6 separate regions of the Homo sapiens genome follow, and all the other regions are reported to be linked to region 3. Evidence: microRNA targets listed by miRTarBase, many of them from high-throughput screens and not tested one by one. Region 3 holds a microRNA gene; each other region holds the end of a gene's coding sequence.
The links. Region 3 holds the annotated microRNA hsa-miR-5690 (UCAGCUACUACCUCUAUUAGG, at 2,261-2,281, opposite strand). A microRNA usually pairs through its seed, bases 2 to 8, with sites in the 3' UTR of a target mRNA and lowers its output. Matches are read on the target gene's strand: a 7mer-m8 pairs with bases 2 to 8, a 7mer-A1 pairs with bases 2 to 7 and ends in A, and an 8mer does both.

Region 1: miRTarBase lists ZNF585B as a target of hsa-miR-5690. Seed matches in the 3' UTR shown: 7mer-m8 at 1,371-1,377.
Region 2: miRTarBase lists UBA6 as a target of hsa-miR-5690. The part of its 3' UTR that is shown has no 7-base or 8-base seed match.
Region 4: the mRNA of ZNF681 is a reported target of hsa-miR-5690. Seed matches in the 3' UTR shown: 7mer-m8 at 1,287-1,293.
Region 5: miRTarBase lists SHOX as a target of hsa-miR-5690. Seed matches in the 3' UTR shown: 7mer-m8 at 2,493-2,499 and 7mer-m8 at 2,172-2,178.
Region 6: miRTarBase lists TRIM2 as a target of hsa-miR-5690. Seed matches in the 3' UTR shown: 7mer-A1 at 1,652-1,658.

Annotation. Positions count from the first base shown.
Region 1 is chr19:37,182,487-37,185,613 of GRCh38, reverse strand. It overlaps ZNF585B (zinc finger protein 585B), which reads left to right. Exons shown (of 5, transcript NM_152279.4): 5 at 1-3,127. The coding sequence ends at 387. Among named protein-coding and RNA genes, the nearest start is that of ZNF585A, 11 kb to the right of the region's middle.
Region 2 is chr4:67,616,158-67,619,284 of GRCh38, forward strand. It overlaps UBA6 (ubiquitin like modifier activating enzyme 6), which reads right to left. Exons shown (of 33, transcript NM_018227.6): 33 at 1-2,975. The coding sequence ends at 2,840. Among named protein-coding and RNA genes, the nearest start is that of STAP1, 59 kb to the left of the region's middle.
Region 3 is chr6:35,662,500-35,665,626 of GRCh38, forward strand. MIR5690 (microRNA 5690) reads right to left here and starts at 2,290; the gene lies at 2,218-2,290. The region is part of intron 1 of FKBP5 (FKBP prolyl isomerase 5); the gene reads right to left. RefSeq lists enhancers at 197-698, 699-1,198.
Region 4 is chr19:23,741,089-23,744,088 of GRCh38, forward strand. ZNF681 (zinc finger protein 681) reads right to left here. Exons shown (of 4, transcript NM_138286.3): 4 at 1-3,000. The coding sequence ends at 2,524. Among named protein-coding and RNA genes, the nearest start is that of ZNF681, 16 kb to the right of the region's middle.
Region 5 is chrY:658,264-661,390 of GRCh38, reverse strand. It overlaps SHOX (SHOX homeobox), which reads right to left. Exons shown (of 6, transcript NM_006883.2-2): 6 at 1,980-2,606. The coding sequence ends at 2,562. Among named protein-coding and RNA genes, the nearest start is that of SHOX, 35 kb to the right of the region's middle.
Region 6 is chr4:153,334,500-153,337,626 of GRCh38, forward strand. TRIM2 (tripartite motif containing 2) reads left to right here. Exons shown (of 12, transcript NM_015271.5): 12 at 315-3,127. The coding sequence ends at 467. Among named protein-coding and RNA genes, the nearest start is that of MND1, 8.6 kb to the right of the region's middle.

The sequences.
Region 1 (3,127 bases), not on the chromosome of region 3:
GCCTTTAGTGGCAGGTCAAATCTCAGTAAGCACCAGAAAACTCATACCGGAGAAAAGCCCTACATTTGTTCTGAATGTGGGAAGACCTTTCGACAGAAGTCAGAGTTGATTACACATCACAGAATTCATACTGGAGAGAAACCTTATGAGTGCAGTGACTGTGGGAAGTCTTTCACTAAAAAATCACAGCTCCAAGTGCATCAGCGAATTCACACTGGAGAGAAGCCTTACGTGTGTGCTGAGTGTGGGAAGGCCTTTAGCAACAGGTCCAATTTGAATAAACATCAGACAACACACACTGGAGACAAACCCTACAAGTGTGGCATCTGTGGGAAAGGCTTCGTTCAGAAATCAGTGTTCAGTGTTCATCAGAGCAGCCACGCTTGAGAGAAACAGTGTGAGAAAACCCCCCTGAGGGTTGGGTCTGATTGTACACTGTTGCACGCATGCAGCAGAAAAATATGTATATTATTGTAAATAGAAATGACCACATCAGAATGTCACACATGGCTGTTCTGGAGAGGGCCTCTGAGAAGGCACTGAATGAGGCGAGGGACCCTTCCTACATTGTCACCATCCCCAGTAAACCTTGGGTCATTATTCATACTGACAAGGAACCGAGTCAATTTGGTGAATAGGAAAAGCCTTCTCATGAAAACTACAATAGAATACTGTTACCAAATTCTTCATAAGAAAGATCATATTATGGGAATGATAATCCTGTTTACTGTGGATTAGGTATAGTGCCAACAGTTTGAATGGTAAGACAACATAATATATATGATAGTGATGAATCCTTCTGTGAGTTGTTTGTTCCAGAACACACTGTCTAGTAGAATTGTGGGTATTTTCTTCTTTTGAATCGAACACAGTTGTGCATATCCAATTCCCCATTGAGTATTTCTATCAAGCAAGAGATACTGCAATAAGACAAACTCCCTGTGTATTCAGACACAGACCTCAGAGCGTATGTTGAGTCCCCATTGTCATAGAAAAAGACTTACAGTCCCCTTCATTATCTGCCAGGACTCTCTCTGAGCCCCACAGGTTCTCAGCACATTGTGTTTGACACCCAGCACAGTGTTTTTTCTTTTTCTTTCTTTCTTTCTCTTTCTTTCTTTCTTTCTTTCTTTCTTTCTTTCTTTCTTTCTTTCTTTCTTTCTTTCTTTCCTTCTTTCTTTCTTTTTCTTTCTTTCTCTTTCTTTCTTTCTTTCTTTCTTTCTTTCTTTCTTTCTTTCTTTCTTTCTTTCTTTCTTTTTTTGAGACAGAGTCTTGCTCTGTCGGGCAAGCTAGAGTGCAGTGGCGCTATCTTGGCTCACTGCAACCTCCGTCTCCCGGGCTCAAGCAATTCTCCTGCCTCAGCCTCCTGAGTAGCTGGGATTGCGTGTGCCACCACGCCCAGCTAATTTTTGTATGTTTAGTAGAAACGGGGGTTTCACCATGCTGGCCAGGCTGGTCTCGAACTCCTGACCTCATGATCCGCCCGCCTCGGCCTCCCAAAGTCCTGGGATTACGGACGTGAGCCACTGCGCCCGGCCCAGCACAGTGTTTTGTACACTCCCACCACCCTCAAGAAAGCCTTTGAGGTTAGGATTTTCAGGTCATCTGGGAGAACTTAAATTCTTCCTTCTGCTATTACAATTCTTCTCACTCAGTTGCCTGCCTCTTTTTTTTTTTTAATTTACTTGTGACTGAGTTGAAGCCCAGCATTTTACTTTCCTTAATGATCTGACTTTCATAAGTTGATAAGTCATGAAATCATTATCTTACATTATATGAGATATGAGATAAATCATAAATCATATGAAATTGATAACTCATATGAAAACCAACCCCACCATATGTTCACTGTCTACTTGTGTCCATCTTCGTCCCACGCACCCCACAAGGACCTTCCCCGCCATGTGCCTCAAACATCAGTTCCTGACTCAGGGCCTTTGTATTTGCAGTGCCCGTTGCAAAGAGCACAATTCTTTATTTTATCTGTGGCTTGTCCGTCATGTCTTTTTTTCCATGACACCTCCACACAGGCCTTCCCTGCCTGCCTGGTTTAAAATTCCAGCCCCTTACCCTTCCTCCTTTATTCTTCTCCCTAGCAATTTCCACCATGCTGCCTGGTGTATTTTCCTCATTTCTCTGTGGCTTCTACACTAGAAAATATTTCCCTTTTGTTCACCACTATGAGTCTAGACCCATGACTGCCATACAGCAGGCATTCCATAAATGCACCTGTGGAGAGTTGACCCATGCTTGTTGCGTGACTTCTGTCTGATTTTTTTCTGTGTTGCAGCATAAGAAGCGCTAATAGGGAGAACCAACTTGGCTAAAACACACCAGGCTTTTTCACCTCTAGTCTGTACCTGGGCTGTATCCCTTCTCAACCCTAAAGCTAAAAAGTCATTGTGAACCTTTTGGTCTGATGCTAAAGAAGGGAAAACAGGTACAGGAAATCCCATGTGGATGCTTGCTTCCAGGATTTCCTGCCATGATTCCAGAATCCCACAGCTCCAACATGATTGCAAAAGACTCCCTGCTCATTTTTCCTCAGCATGCACAGCGCTGTCCTGTCTCAGTTGCAACTCGACAGAGCCGCATTTACTCCAGAACCCAATCCACACACCTGCTCATCCTGCCCCGAGAGGAGTGCCTGAAGCCAATAGCAGGGAACTAGAGCAGACTTGGGTGGATCTTCATTGGATATTAGGTATCTTGCCCTAGATAGGCAGCAGTGGCCTTACAGATGCTGACAGATGATCTGATTAGATGCACAGTTGCTGGGTGGCGTCTGGGGCCAGTCTATTGGCAGTTCTGGGAGTGGGAACTATTTGGGCTCTGCAAAGATGGTTTCACCTTTAAGAAGGGCAGTATGGGGAGGTGAAGATGGGGCCCAAAGGATAGAACATAGTCAAAGAAGCAGGGCCACAATGCCCCTTTAATTCCCAAGCCCTAGTTGGGCAGTGCTTGGTGACACATCCCATTACCTCACCTTAGATCAATGTCTACTGAGCCATCATTAGCTCTGCTTCCTCACTTCTTCACAGTATCTGATGGCCCATCACATGCTGCTCAACATCTTAGACCAATGTCTGCTCACCCATTACCTCCCTTCACCTCATCCAGCACTGTA
Region 2 (3,127 bases), not on the chromosome of region 3:
GATTTTTTTTTTTTCAGAGAAAGCATTCAGATTATATGTTTTTGAATCTATGAAAAGTAAAATCGCTAAATCCATACACAGTGATTATATAAAATTAGATATTTGCAATCACAATGAATATTCATTATAGTGGAAAGATTTAGGTCACGAGATTTTTTTTTTCCCTAAAAATTTCAAAAGAACAATTTTCTATCTTCATTTTACTAATTATAAAATAAACATAGTTGCTTTTTTAATGTTCCATGAATATCACCAGAGTGTGACATAGTAGATTAAAAAATAAAGATATACATTTATTTCCATGTCCTACCTTTGGGACAATTTATGAGGAACTTATGGACAAGTAACAGAACTGCTTTGAACTCTAAAAAGAAATGGACTTTACAAATCCCTAACCAGTAGTATGGGATTTACCAGATCCTCTAGGTTTTACATGGTCACGACTATTTCTCTCCAACTGTTTTAAAAGAATTTCCTGGAGCCATCTGAGGACATTTGAGGTAATGTCCTTCCACACCTAATAACTGCTGTATCTCCATGATTGCAAACTTGAAAATCAGGAAACACCAAAGCAACATTACTCACAAAATAAACAGCAAAATCAGAATCTCTGGAGTCAACTTATGAAACATGATTTACAAAGATATTCTTACATTTCTTAATTTATTTTTAATAAGTAAAAAATACTCATTGAAACTGTACAAAAATCAAATCATTAATTTTTGCACCTGGTATTTCAGTCATCAACAGCAATCTCATGGTACAGAAATAAAATAATGGGAATTATCATTAACTTCACCCTGGCTTTCTAGCTTAGTAGAACCAAACAGAAGAAATCATGGCAATAACCATTAACTATAGAAAAAAAGTAATGGAAAAATGGTTGCAGGTTTAATCACAAAATGAACTTAATTTTTGTTGATTTTGTTTTATCTGCTAAAACACTAATATCTATAAATATGAACTGACAGCATCGTTCTAAATTTACTTCTGAAGAGCTGTCGAGACTTCAATAAAATATAAGCAAGTTACTGGATCATATTTATGGACTGCTGAATTAACTACCCGAAAAGTATCAGTTACTTTCAAAGAACACAAAACAAAGTGAACGTGGAAAAAAGCCTTCTTTGCAAAAGTCCTTTTATTAGTCCTATCCTCTAAAATTCCAAGCCACAGAGCCTTGATATTCCTGGATTCTGTTTTAAGTAACCTTAGTTTTAAATATGACACTTGGGATATGCACAATGGGAAAGGGTAGGATATGTGAACAAAATTTAATTTCTTTTTTCCAAAGGTAGTCATTTTCTTTAAATTCATCCTATCCACTTTTGCCCACTTCCCCATGTACAGATTATCCTTTAGTCATACAAATTCACTCTCCACTTCCACATACATTTTCCCCACTTGATGGTACTTTTACAAGAGGGAAACAATACAGCTGGTTGATAAAGTAATTTAAACTATTTGTAAATGAAATAAAAAGAAAGTAGGTATAATACATAGTGTAAAAGATACCAAATTGGAGTAATATTGATGTTAATCTAGTTTTTTATTTAACAAAGTACCTACTAATGGTCTGAGCAGGAGAGTAGAAGGAAAGGAGCTAGAGGGAAATTACTTCCTATGGTTAAAAAAAAGCCAACTGCTTCAGAATGCATGACAGTCTTAGTAATAAAAGAATCATTTACTATTTTCACTGAGTTTACAGTGTTGGGTACTACTGTTTACATCATTTTAATGAAAGTATTTATAAAAACATCTGCAATAGTTCATATCAGAAAACAAAGTTTCTCTCAATAAAGACCTTAAAAAATAAATTTTTATCTTCATTAACTCCCTTTCTGGGAATGGGAATGAAATAACATGCTTCTGTTTAAAAAAAAAAAACAAAAAAAACACAAAATTTAATACCCTAATTAGGTTTCTGGAAAAAAAAAAGACTACCCTAGCAATAATTTTTAACATTCTACATTTCATCTATTTCTAAAGACACTCCCTTTACAAAATCTTTTAGTTTTATATATTAGGACAATCAGGTTTAGAGTCTCACATAAATAAAATAGCCACATTAGAAGGCATACTGAAGAATCAAATGGTTAGCCACATTTGTCTGTTCACATTCACGGATTCTCTAAGAGCGTTGTGAGAGTCCATATAATACTGTTCACGTTTAGTCTAAGTTAATATGTCTCATCTGACCTATTGCTCCTACAACACTGATGCTATCAACAAAAATCCTGATTTTGGGGACACAGTGATATAACAAACTGGTTAAACGAGCAGAGGTAATAGGACAGTAAACTGTAACTGCACAATTTAAAATATCCACCCTTCATCCACCACTACCATACTTCTTCCCAGTGGTATTAAATTCTCAAAGCCAAATCATATCAGAGGTGCAGGATGCCAAACACTATTTGCATAGAAAATCAGTCTTCAAGACTAAACAAAAAAGAAATTCATAAAATTAAACTTTTTGAATAGTTGCATTCGTTGCTTTCAATTTCTTCATCCATATCTGTTCTGGTCATACATATTTTTTCCTTCTTTTTATCCAGAGAGATTAATACACAGATTAATACACAAAACTTTTGTAAATAGCATTCCAGTTCAAAGTTGCTTGTGATCATAGCCACGTGTGAACCGTTAGACAAGTGTATGCTATGCCCCAAAATGTTTTATAATTCTTCAGTGCAGTTTCTTACTGATGTTTCCCTTAAAATTAAGGCTTAATGAAAGAGAAATCCATAGTATTATGAACTGATTTTCTTTAGCTTCTGAATTAAGTGCACTCTTTCCAAAATCAAGTGGTCCTGGAGTAACGTTAAGACAACTTGTATTAATCAGTGTCATGACTGAAGTAGTATCTTACTGGAGGTCCCGGCAAATCTTCATCTCCATCAATGTCTGGAGCAAATGACACAGTAAGATCCACATATTTCTTTTCAGTAGTAGGTTTTACAAGTTTATGCATTCTAAGAAAAATAAGCAAGAATGAATACTTTGGTAAATTCTATAAAATGAAAAAATGATTTGCTGACTAATGCCATCCAGAGAACCTGGACTTGTATCTAGACTTTAACATCTAATAATAATCTGCTTTCACATATTCATTTTTCTTTACTAA
Region 3 (3,127 bases):
TCTTGAACTCCTGGGCTCAAGCGATCCTGCCACCTCAGCCTCCCAAAGTGCTGGGATTACAGATGTGAGCCATCACGCCTGGCTGTGTCCAAATATATTTCAACAAACTGCATCTCAAACTGGGTATACTAATATTTGGTGCCACTAGTAAGTATATATAAATATATAAGAGAACAAGGATTACCTAGCTATCATAATTACAGTAAATTTGTTTTGTTAATAGGAACTCATTTTAATTGTGCATTCATTTTTGCTGCTTTTGGCCCTTAGTTGTTTGAAAGCCAATAGTTTTCTAATTATACTATGAATCCTACACACCATGAATACCTACTGAATATGAAATGTCTGTAAGACCCTGTTCTAGGAGCTACAAAGAAAACTGAAATAAGTTAGCCCAAGGATTTTTTGTGAAGGCAAAGAAACATTTTAATTCCAAATAATTATTATTAGGTAGAAGAGAGCTACAAAGTGTTTCTGAGGGTCCCAAGGAGGCAGAAGATGGCAGTGTCTGAGCTGGATAGGCATACTTTCAACCGGCAAGGGTGTGGCAAGAGTAAAATCAAGGCTGGTAAAAGAACACAGCACGTTTCAAGCCTAAGCAGCTTAAGTGCAAAGTGGCTCCGGGTGGAAATGATGAGAGAGCAAGAGCACAAAGAGGACCCTCTAAAACAGAGCCAGTGACCATGTGAGCTGAGGGGGAGGGCTTCTCACAGGGCAAACGGTACAGAAAGACGCGAAGACACAAAGCATCATGACCCATCCAGGGAGCTGCATGTGATCCCACTTGGCTAAAGTGAAGGGTACATGTGGGAAAGAAGCAGATGATGCTAAATAAACAGGCAGAGGCCTGACTGTGAAGGACCTTGTGTGCCAAAGTAAAGTACGTGAACATTATTCCAAAGGCAACAGGGAACTGAGGCATTTTTAAGAAAAGAAATGACAAGCAGACTAGCTTTAAGAAAAAATTACTCTGGCACTCCAATGGTTTCCCATCTCACACAGGATAAAATCCAAAGTCCTTCTTATGCTTAATACCCTATACATGCTGATCACTCGCTATCTCTGAAATTATTTCTCCTTTTCCCTCACTCACTGCTCTGGCTACAGTGGCCTTCTTGCTGCCCCCTCCCATGTGCCCTTTCCTCAGTGCCTTTGCACTTGCTATCCCCACTACCTGGAACTCTTCCCTGGTTAGCTGCATAGCTCACTCCCTCACTCGCTTCAGGTCTGCCTTCATGTTCAAACCTTTTCTTATCAGAGTTGTTTTACTGTTACCGGAAATAAAAGAGCAAAAATCGACTATAATCAGCCCCACTATGTTTTCCTCCAGTGTATTTATAGTATTTGTATACTGCCTGTCTCTCCTTACTAGAATGTAAGCTCTATGATGGATCTCTTCAATAACCGTGTGACATTGAGATTGTTACTACTGACACGTCCAGACAGCAAATCTAATGGACGAGCTAAGTAATCTATCCAAGGATATACTTCTAGTGAACAGTGGAACCAGGGAGACTGACTCTGGAGCCTGCACTCTAACTATTTTACATACTGACTCCCCAGAAGTGTCACAGGTCTCTGACTCTGATTCTAAAGCATTTCCTGTGAACAGGCTCCATGCTGACAAGCACTAAGCCAGCAAAAATTCTGAATTCACAGTATGTTCTTCTAAAAAGATGGTGATTCTTACAATTTGTATTAGCCAAGTTTTAAAAGCCAGGGAATATTTTTTAAATAATCAATTAAAATGTACAAAGTATCTGGACTTTTACCTATCCAAAAATTAGCTGTTTTTTTTTTAGACCCACAGATATTCAAACAAGATGAAAGATTTTATGAACTAAAAGGAACACAGCATATGACACCAAAAACTACCCAAGACCCTTTTTCCGTTACCATATTCAATTTCAGGAATAAAACTCAACATCTTTAAAATAATCATCAAATTTTCTGACATGCCACTCCCGGAGGAAGAACAATGTGGTATCTACAGGAAAACATCCAGCAAATACAGTATCTCATGCACAGTAAAAGAATGAAAGGTAGGCTGCAGTAACATTTGTCTTTATTCTTTCCCCACTCCTGAAATTATTAAATTTCCTCTCTGCCTGGGCATTCTTTCATCCCATCTCCCATTACTATCAGTATCCTCTCCTTAAAATGCAGTTGTCAATCAACAGTTGTCCCCATCAACCACTTCATACCAGAACTCATCCACTCTTAATTTCAACTATTACCTCTATTAGTATAACTCCCAAATCCTAATAGAGGTAGTAGCTGAAATTAAAAGTGGCATAATTTCTCCCTCTTTCCTTCTCCAATCTTTGATTTCTCTCACTTCAGGACCCTTTTATTTCCTTATGTTTTTAAGGAAAATTAACTTTTTCAAAATTGGTCCCTTCTCCATTTATTTCATAATCTGTATTATCTGGCCATTCTCCTAGGTTTGCAACTTCAATATAATTTTTCTCCACTTAATCAATAGGACCGCCAACTATTCATTGTGTTTCTTATCTTACTTTCGACTCCATAGCTATCATCATATTTTGAGTTTTCTTCCTCTCCTTTGTGAATTACTACAGTTCTCCAGAGGACCTGCCTACCTCCAGACGGCTCACTCACTCCCACTCATTCTGTATACACTGCTAGTGAAGCCTTTCTGACACAGCACACCCACCACATTACTCTCTAATTCATGGACCTTAAATAGTGTTCCAACACAACAAATCTAAACTTCTCAAACCAGCACTCAGGGTCTTCTGCTCCTTTAGAATGTCACTAGTAAATGCTCCTCTTTTTTTTTTTTTTTAGAGGAGTCTCACTCTGTCACCAAGCTGGAGTGCAGTGGCGCGATCTCGGCTCACTGCAACCTCCGCCTCCCAGGTTCAAGCAATTCTCCTGCCTCAGCCTCCCGAGTAGCTGGGACTACAGGCGCGTGCCACCACACCCAGCTAATTTTTTTTGTATTTTTAGTAGAGATAGGGTTTCACTATGTTTGCCAGAATGGTCTCAATCTCTTGACTTCATGATCCGCCCGCCTCGGCCTCCCAAAGTGCTGGGATTATAGGCATGAGCCACCGTGCCTGGCCATAAATGTTTATCTTAAACATTCTAAAAAGATAAAAAC
Region 4 (3,000 bases), not on the chromosome of region 3:
CTAATTAAAATAATTTGATTTGTTTCAATATTGCTCTTCTGAAACTAGGTAGAAACTCATACTCGCAAAGAAGGCATTTATTTACTCCATAATTTTTTTAAACCCAAGCTTTATCTTTAAAGTAATATATGTATATATTTAACTCTGTGTAAATCAAAACTAATAGTCTGTATGTGCTTGCAGGCAGAGAGGCAACATGTTTGAAGAAAAATATATAACAATTTTTTAATGTTAATTCAGGTCTCAGAAATGTATGCATTTTGTTTATATTGTTTTCTTATGACCATAAAAGAGACCCTGTAGCCAACAACAATTTAATGTACATTTGAAAACAACTAAAAGTGGCTGGGTGTGGTGGCTCCCACCTGTAATCCCAGCACTTTGGGAGGCCGAGGGGGCTAATCATGGGGTCAGGAGTTCAAGACAAACCTGGCCAACGTAGTGAAACTGTTTCTACTAAAAATACAAAAATTAGCTGAGTGTGGTGGCATGCGCCTGTAGTCCCAACTACTCAGGAGGCTGAGGCGGAAGAATCACTTGAACCCAGTAGGCGGAGGTTGCAGTGAGCTGAGACCACGCCAATGCACCCAGGCGTGCACAGCCTGGGTGACATAGTGAGACTCGTCTCAAAAAAAAACCGAAAAGTGCAGAATTAGTTTATAATACAAACAAATACAAACAATAAATGCTGCAGGTAATGAATATTTCATTTACCCATATGTAATTATTACATATTATATACCTGTATCAAAATATGCCATATATGCCATATTTACACATACTATGTACCCACAAAAATTAAGAAAAATAAGTTTAAATAAGAAAAAATGAGTAATAATTCAACCTACAGGAATAATATTCTCTGACTTATTTGCAATTTAAAGCCACTGGCAAAACAGATTACTAGAAATGTTAGTCCATTATCTTATTAAATAGTGTATAGTTACCATCATTTACCTATACCCTTGAGTAAGATGGGATAAGTTAAATTTAATGGCATAATAATGCTTCATTGAATGCACGATGGTCTTAACATGTTTTTTAAAAAGCCTGATTAATAAGTTCACACATTATCTAAAAATTTTAAAATGTACTACATTTTATTACATAAAAGTACAATTGGCCAGGCATGGTGACTCGCGCCTGTAATCCCAGCACTTTGGGAGGCCGAGGTGGGTGGATCACCCGAGGTCGGGAGTTTGAGACCAGCCTGACCAACATAGAGAAACCCCATCTCTATTAAAAATACAAAATTAGCCGGGCATGGTGGCACATGCCTGTAATCCCAGCTACTCGGGAGGCTGAGGCAGGAGAATCCCTTGAACCTGGGAGGTGGAGGTTTTGGTGAGCCAAGATCACACCATTGCACTCCAGCCTGGGCAACAAGAGCAAAACTCTGTCTCAAAAAAAAAAAAAGTACAATTAGTAAAATGATATACCAGAAAATTTTTTTTCTCAATATAACACAGGATATTTATCTGAACTCCTACCTCATGCATCAGTCAATATTATAAATTAACCAGAAAGAGCCTCTCCACTTACATTTTCATCTTGCATCTTACATTTTAATGTCCTTAACTCTTTCACTAAAAAAGGTCGTAAATAATGCACACCTAATAACAAAGAATCTCTCATCTTTGATGCAGCAACAATTAAGTCACATGCTTTCACATGTGAATACAATAGGAATGAAGAGCATAACTTGAGTTAAATGACATTATTCACTTTTCATAAAACCTAATTTTTTTCAAAGGATAGTTTGAATGTAGTTACAACTCTGCAAAAATTTTCTACTTCTTATAATGTTATATACAAATAATTCATTTACCAACTTTAGTTTTAGATTCTTTTCTATACTCAGCAATCTGATTTAGTGTAATGCCTGAAGTGTCAGTGCCTTAACTATTTCTACTGTGAATTATCTGATATTTACATAGAATTTTGGATTAAATATTTTTTCATATTTACTGCATCTGCAAAAATAGATTTTAGTATGAACCCTCTAGTGTTTTCTAAGCTGTCGTTTTTGAAAAAATGTTTTCCCAAATTTATTACATTTGCAGGGTTTTTCTCCAATATAAATTTCCTTATGTTGCACAAAGTTTAAGCAACTGCTCCATGGTTTTCCTCTAGCACAAAATGTGTACAATGAGATCTGTGATACAAGTAAAGGTACCACAACCCTCCTTATGTTCATAATGTGTGTCTTCAAAATGAATACTCTTCACTTTAGAGGCTTATATTTTCTGAAAGATTTTTGACAGTAATTGCATGTATAATGCTTTTATTAAGTATGAAATCTCTGATGTTGAGTAAGATGTGAACAGATATTAATGGCTTTTTCACATTCTGTATATTTGAAATTTTTTTCTAGTACAAATGCTTTCCTGTGCAATAAGGTGTGAGCATTGGTTAAAAGTTTTGCCACATTCTTCACACTTGTAGGTTTTTTTTTAGTATGAATTATCTTATGCACAATCAAGTGTGACAACTTTTAAAGGTTTTGTTACATTCTTCACATTTCTAAGATTTCTCACCAGCATAATTTCTTTTATGTTTAGAAAACTTTGAAGTGTTTTCAAAATCACTGTTACATCTTTTAGGTTTGTAGAGTTTCTCACCAGTATGAATTTTCTTATGTCCAGTAAGGTTTGAGGACTGGTTAAAAGCTTTGCCACATTTTTCACATTGGTAGGGTTTCTCTCCAGTATGAATTCTCTTATGTCTAGTAAGGTGTGAGGACTGGTTAAAGGCTTTACCACATTCTTCACATTGGTAGGGTTTCTCTCCAGTATGAATTACCTTATGTGTAGCAAGATGTGAGGAATGGTTAAAGGCTTTGCCACATTCTTCACATGTGTAGGGTTTCTCTCCAGTATGAATTTTCTTATGTTCAGTAAGTTTTGAGGATCGATAGAAAGCTTTGCCACATTCTTCACATTTGTAGGATTTCTCTCCAGTATGAATTCTCTTATGTGTAGTAAGGATTGAGGACTGGTT
Region 5 (3,127 bases), not on the chromosome of region 3:
GGGTCTTGCTGGCCGGGTACGGTGGCTCACGTACAGGTGAGCTACAGGTGAGCTGCTGCAGGTGAGGTACAGGTGAGGTACAGGTGAGCTGCTGCAGGTGAGCTACCAGTGAGCTGCTACAAGTGAGCTACACGTGAGCTACAGGTGAGCCGCTGCAGGTGAGCTATACCTGAGCTATGGGTGAGCTGCTTCAAGTGAGCTGCTGTAGGTGAGCTACAGGGTATCACTAGTAGTCAGATGGCCTCTTGCTGCAGCATGGTTTCCAAGGAATATCACTTGCATTTACGTCAGAAAAGAAGAAGAAATGTGGGGCACAAACACAAAAGTTAGGTGCCACCATTGGTGGTGTTGGGACAGGCGTGGCCAATGTACCATCTACACTTAGAGTAAAATACTCTGGCCCCTCATGGTTCCTTAAGATGTAACAAACATCTCCATGTCATTCTTTCTGTAACACTGAGTAACCCATGACCCTTGTCCGTAGCCTGGAGAAAGGCTTTGGAAATCTATAACTTCTCAGCATTAACAATTACTTAGATATTCTGTTTACAAGACAAGAAGTTACAGATTCCCAAAGCATCTTCCCCATGCTCCCTCCAGAGACTCTTGGCGAGAAGAGATGGGGAGGGAGACTGGAGCAAAGTCCACTGCACCGTATTTTATGTTCCCTTCCAACCCCAGCCCTGCCCACCCCAATGGTCTCCTGAGTTCAGTATGATTTCATTATATTAATTAATTGATTAATTAATTGTTTTCAGACAAGGTCGTGCTCTGTCACCCAGGCTGGAGTGCAGTAGCTTGGAGAGCTTCTCAGCATTAACAAGTACTTAGACATTCTGTTGAGAAGCTTGCCTGGCCAAATGAAGCACCCTCAGTTTCTGGCAATTGGCTCACTCACGATTGAGAACAGGCTACAGACAAGAGGAGACATCCTTTCACTCTCCTTTCTCTTCGCTGGACGTCTCTTTTTCTCCTCAGAGTGCGGAAACTACCCACTTTCTGATTTCCTAAGACATGACGTCTGGCCGGGCACCGTGGCTCACGCCTGTAATCCCAACACTCTGGGAGGCTGAGGCAGGAGGATCATCTGAAGTCAGGAGTTCAAGACCAGCCTGGCCAATGTGGTGAAGCCCCGTCTCTACCAAAAAAATACAAACATTAGGTGGGTGTGGTGGCGGGCACCTGTAGTCCCAGCTACTCGGGAGGCTGAGGCAAAAGAATTTCTTGAACCTGGGAGGTGGAGGTTGCAGGGAGCCGAGATTGCACCACTGCACTCCAGCCTGGGCAACAGAGTGAAACTCCATCTTAAAAAAAAAAAAAAGAAGAAGAAGAAGAAGGCTGGACGCGGTGGCCCTCGCCTGTCATCCCAGCACTTTGGGAGGCCCAGGTGGGTGGATCACCCGAGGTTGGGAGTTCAAGACCAGTCTGGTCAACATGGAGAAACCCCGTCTCTACTACCAATAAAAAATTAGCCAGGTGTGGCGGTGGGCGCCTGTAATCCCAGCTACTTGGGAGGCTGAGGCAGGAGAATCGCTTGAATCCAGGAGGCAGAGGTTGCAGTGAGCCAGGATCACGCCACTGCACTGCAGCCTGCAACAGAGCGAGACTCCGTCTCAAAACAAAACTAGCCGGGTGTGGTGGTGTGTGCCTGTAATCTCAGCTACTCGGGAGGCTGAGGCAGGAGAATCGCTTGAACCCAGGAGGCAAAGGTTGCTGTGAGCTGAGATCATGCCACTAGCCTGGGCAACAGAGTGAGACTCTGCCTCAAAAATACAAATAAATAAATATAAATAAATAAAATTTAAAAACAACATGTATCTTTACACAGTGAGGGTAAGAAGGAATGAGAGATGGAGGTGGTGGTAATAACAATTAAATACATGAAATCAGGAGACTGCACACACACACGCGCGCACACGCACACACACCCTCAAACTGTACAATTAACAAAGAAAAGACGAGAACAGGAAGCTAGAACATCCACGTAACAGTCCTTTTTTTGGAGACCACGGGCAGTGGTTCATGCTTGTAATTCTAACACTTTGGGAGGTGGAGGTGAGAGGATCTTTGGAGCTCAGGAGCTCAAGACCAGCCTCAGCAGCAAAGCAAGATCCCGTCTCTAGTAAAAATCAAAAAAATTAGCTGGGTGTGGTGGTGGGTGCCTGTAGTCCCAGCTACTCAGGAGGCTGAGGTGGGAGGATTGCTTGAGCCCAGGAGTTTGAGGCTGCAGTGAGCTATGATCGCACCAGTGTGCTCCAGCCTGGGTGACAGAGCAAGACTCTGTCTTTCTTAAAAAAAAAAAAAAAATTAAAAATAAAGTTACAAAGGCCGGGCGCAGGGGCTCACGCCTGTCATCCCAGCACTTTGGGAGGCTAAGGCGGGTGGATCACCTGAGGTCAGGAGTTCGAGACCAGCCTGGCCAACATGGTCAAACCCCATCTCTACTGAAAATACAAACATTATCTTGACATGGTGGTGGGCACCTGTAATCCCAGCTACTCGGGAGGCTGAGGCAGGAGAATCGCTTGAACTCGGGAGGCGGAGGTTGCAGTGAGTCGAGATCATGCCATTATACTCCAGCCCGGGCGACAAGAGCAAAACTCCATCTAAAAAAAAAAAAAGGCCAAGTGCAGTGGCTCACGCCTGTAGTCCCAGCACTTTGGGAGGCTGAGGCGGACGGATCATGAGGTCAGGAGATCGAGACCTTCCTGGCTAACACGGTGAAACCCCGTCTCTACTAAAAATACAAAAAATTAGCCGGGCGCGGTGGCGGGCGCCTGTAGTCCCAGCTACTGGGGAGGCTGAGGCAGGAGAATGGCGTGAACCCGGGAAGAGGAGCTTGCAGTGAGCGGAGATCGTGCCACTGCACTCCAGCCTGGGTGACAGAGCGAGACTCCGTCTCAAAAAAAAAAAAAAAAAGAGTTCTTTTTGAGAACATGCCTTATCCTAATATTGCATGCAACTGCTACAAAAAATACTAACCATCAATGATAGGTCGACTTTTTCTTATTTTTATAAAATTACAACTCTAAAACCCATACACTGAGTCTGTCTATCTTCATGGTTTAAGGCTCAGAGAGAAAGCTGCTTTAATACCCGCTAAAAAGACCACCTGGGGCCGGGCGTG
Region 6 (3,127 bases), not on the chromosome of region 3:
TTACAGATATAAACCACTGCACCTGGCTTATGCTAATGTTTTAAATATAAAAGCATATATACTGGGCATGGTGGCTCATGGCTATTATCTTAGCACTTTGGGAGGCTGAATCAGGAGAATCGCTTGAGCCTACGAATTAAAGGTTACAGTAAGCTGTCTTCACACCACGGCACACCAGCCTGGGTGTCAGAGTGAGACCCTGTCAAAAAGAAAGAAAGAAACAGAAAAACATTAGCATCAAGAGTTTTCTAACCCATGTTCAGCATATTACTATAACTTCTCCTATAACATTCTGACTTCCTATTTGTTTACAGGTTTTTGATGGGAGTGGATCATTTTTGTCCTACATTAACACATCTGCTGACCCACTCTATGGCCCCCAAGGCCTGGCCCTAACTTCAGATGGTCATGTTGTGGTTGCAGACTCTGGAAATCACTGTTTCAAAGTCTATCGATACTTACAGTAATGGTGGGCAGGTGGATACCCGCTTCCATGGTCTTGCACTATAAACTGGAATGGATTTCTCAATGCGGGACCAGATTATGACTAGAGTTTTTATGCCAGAAGGAATCATTGGTGAACTTTCCAAGGTTATTTCTGAATGTAACAATTTCCTTAAAAATGACTTATCCAATTTCTGTATTTCACCTTTAGGGTTAAAAAAAACTCTTCTACTGAATCTATAAAAACTGCAGTTTTACATCTGTGAACTATGGCTTAAGGGACAGGATTTATGTAGCTAAACTAATTTTGCAAATCAAACAGACACTTAAAAAACTAGCATATGTAAAGGTATTCGTTAATCCTGTGAATGGTAGCTTTTGCACAGAACTTCCAAAAGCAAAACAAAAACAAAATCTATTGTAGTTATATACTTCATTTAACCTAGGTCACAAGACCCAGGGAATCTTCTAACCTCACTTTTACAGTAGGTATTACTCTTGTGACATTTTTTTGGTTATCAACAACTAAATATAAATTACTTTGGAAAAAGTAAGGCTGTCTTGCAAAATGATCCCAGCTCTGATTAGCAGCCCTCTGGAGTTCAGAACTTAAGTATCAGTGCAAATTTCTCAACCTTTCTGGGTTAGACAAAGATCCTTTTTTGTGTGTTCTTTTCACCACCCCTTTGGCTCACCTTGTATCAGCAAACAAAGTACTTCTTCAGGGAAACCTGAAATTTCTAATGCCTTGAAAAGCATATTACAAAAGTAATGCTACCTTTTGGGAAACAAACTGCCCCGTTAACTCCAGATCATTGCACTGGAATGTAATCAAGAAAGTTAGTCATGTTTTATGTACCATGTTTTCACACGTGTCTCTTCTCTTCGACTTCCTGAAAGCGAAAGCTTTACCTCCTGCAAATGTCAGCACATGTAGTAGGACACCAGTATCCTAGGACAGAGAGCCATAAGTAGCCCTTTGGAGGACTGATGGTGTCAACCAAAGGCATGTGATTGATTAATGATTCCCCCTTAGAAAGCAAGTGTTACCAAAGTTGTGTTATCTTGAAAGCATTACAGGTAAGGGCATGTTATGGTTATTTATCATTGTTTAATGAATAGTAGAGGTGTCAAGGGACTATGTATACATGATTAGGGTAAGATAGAATGTATTATATATATATATATATACACACACACATATATATAGCTGAATCTTTGGTGTATTGAAATAGGCAGCACTCTGAAAGACAGAAGCTTCGTCCAGCCACTCTTCAGCACATTCCTTTACTAAGCAGTTTAAAGCCGTCCTAGTGGAGCAAGCCCTAAAGCAGATTTAATTTTTGCCATTTTCCAAGAATGACGGTGGTGGCTTTTAGTCAGAAAATGGCCTTCTGTGCTTTCAAAAAAAAAAACAAAAAAAAAACCACACACACACATAAAAAACCCAACAGGTCAAAATAAAAGTTGAACTTGAGTTACATTTAATTTAAATATAAATGCATTTTGAGAAATGTTAAGAACAATTTAGTCAATCGTTCATCTGTCATTGGTACTGTAAAATAAGCTGTGGTCTATTTCCACTGTTTAATTTTCTACTCAGTTCTACCAAATAGGATGTCATGTTTGACATTTTTGATAGTGACTTTGGGGTCTTCTTCACTGAAAGCACCTTAGAACTGTACTATAAGAAAACATTTCCCCTATGTATAATTATATGAATGTGATGTTTATTGCTTATTAATTTATAATTCAGTCATTCTCTATATAGGACTTCTTAAAATTTAGAAGGGAAATCTAGCTACTTCAAATTGTCTGTTAAATTTATTATGCCCAAATCAACCTCTGAAAAAAGGTTTTTCCAGGAAGATTTACATTTAGGTTTAATATTTTTTTAGTTAGGTAGAGTTTTAAAAAATACTTGAGCCTGTCCGTGATAAAGCTATAAAATTCAATAACTTTTTAGAATGTTAAATGAAGACACTGTTTCCTAACATCAGTGAGATACATCTTTGAATTTAAACATTCATATTTACTGAGTACCTACTAGGTACCAAGTACTCTTTTAGGCACTGGAAATACAGTGATGGACAAAACAGGTAAAAAATCGCTGCCCCCTCAGAGCTGACATTCTGGGGTGGGAATTTCATTTTGCCACGTACTAACGTTCTGCACAAAAGACAGGCTAGACTCTTGTCTAGATTGTTTAAAAGAAACTTTTCAAATTGGTTACATTAATTTTAGTTTATTTTCACAAGTAAAAATGGCTTTTTATTTAGATTCTTTCTGTCCCAGGCTGTTGATCTTAAAACTAGTTGATTTAAAGAGTTTTTTTGCACAACATTTCAATTATATTTGTGAACTTAGAAATTAACTTACAATCTAACCAGCCATCATATCATATCCTATCAGGCTAGATATCTCAATAGTAGACTGAATACAAAGCTAATTTTTTTTACATGTCAATATTGGCACAAACTGGAATGAAAGAATAGTTTGATTCAGACCTGCTCCACTATGTGTTGCTAAAACACATGCTATGAGCACTCCAGGAAACACTATATTTTTTCCAAAAAATATGTGATTATATATGTTAAAGTATAGATAACATTTCACACTTGGATACATATGTGCATTTACTGTATTTCTTGGTAAGCATATTTTTGGGGGAAAGTGCTGCTGA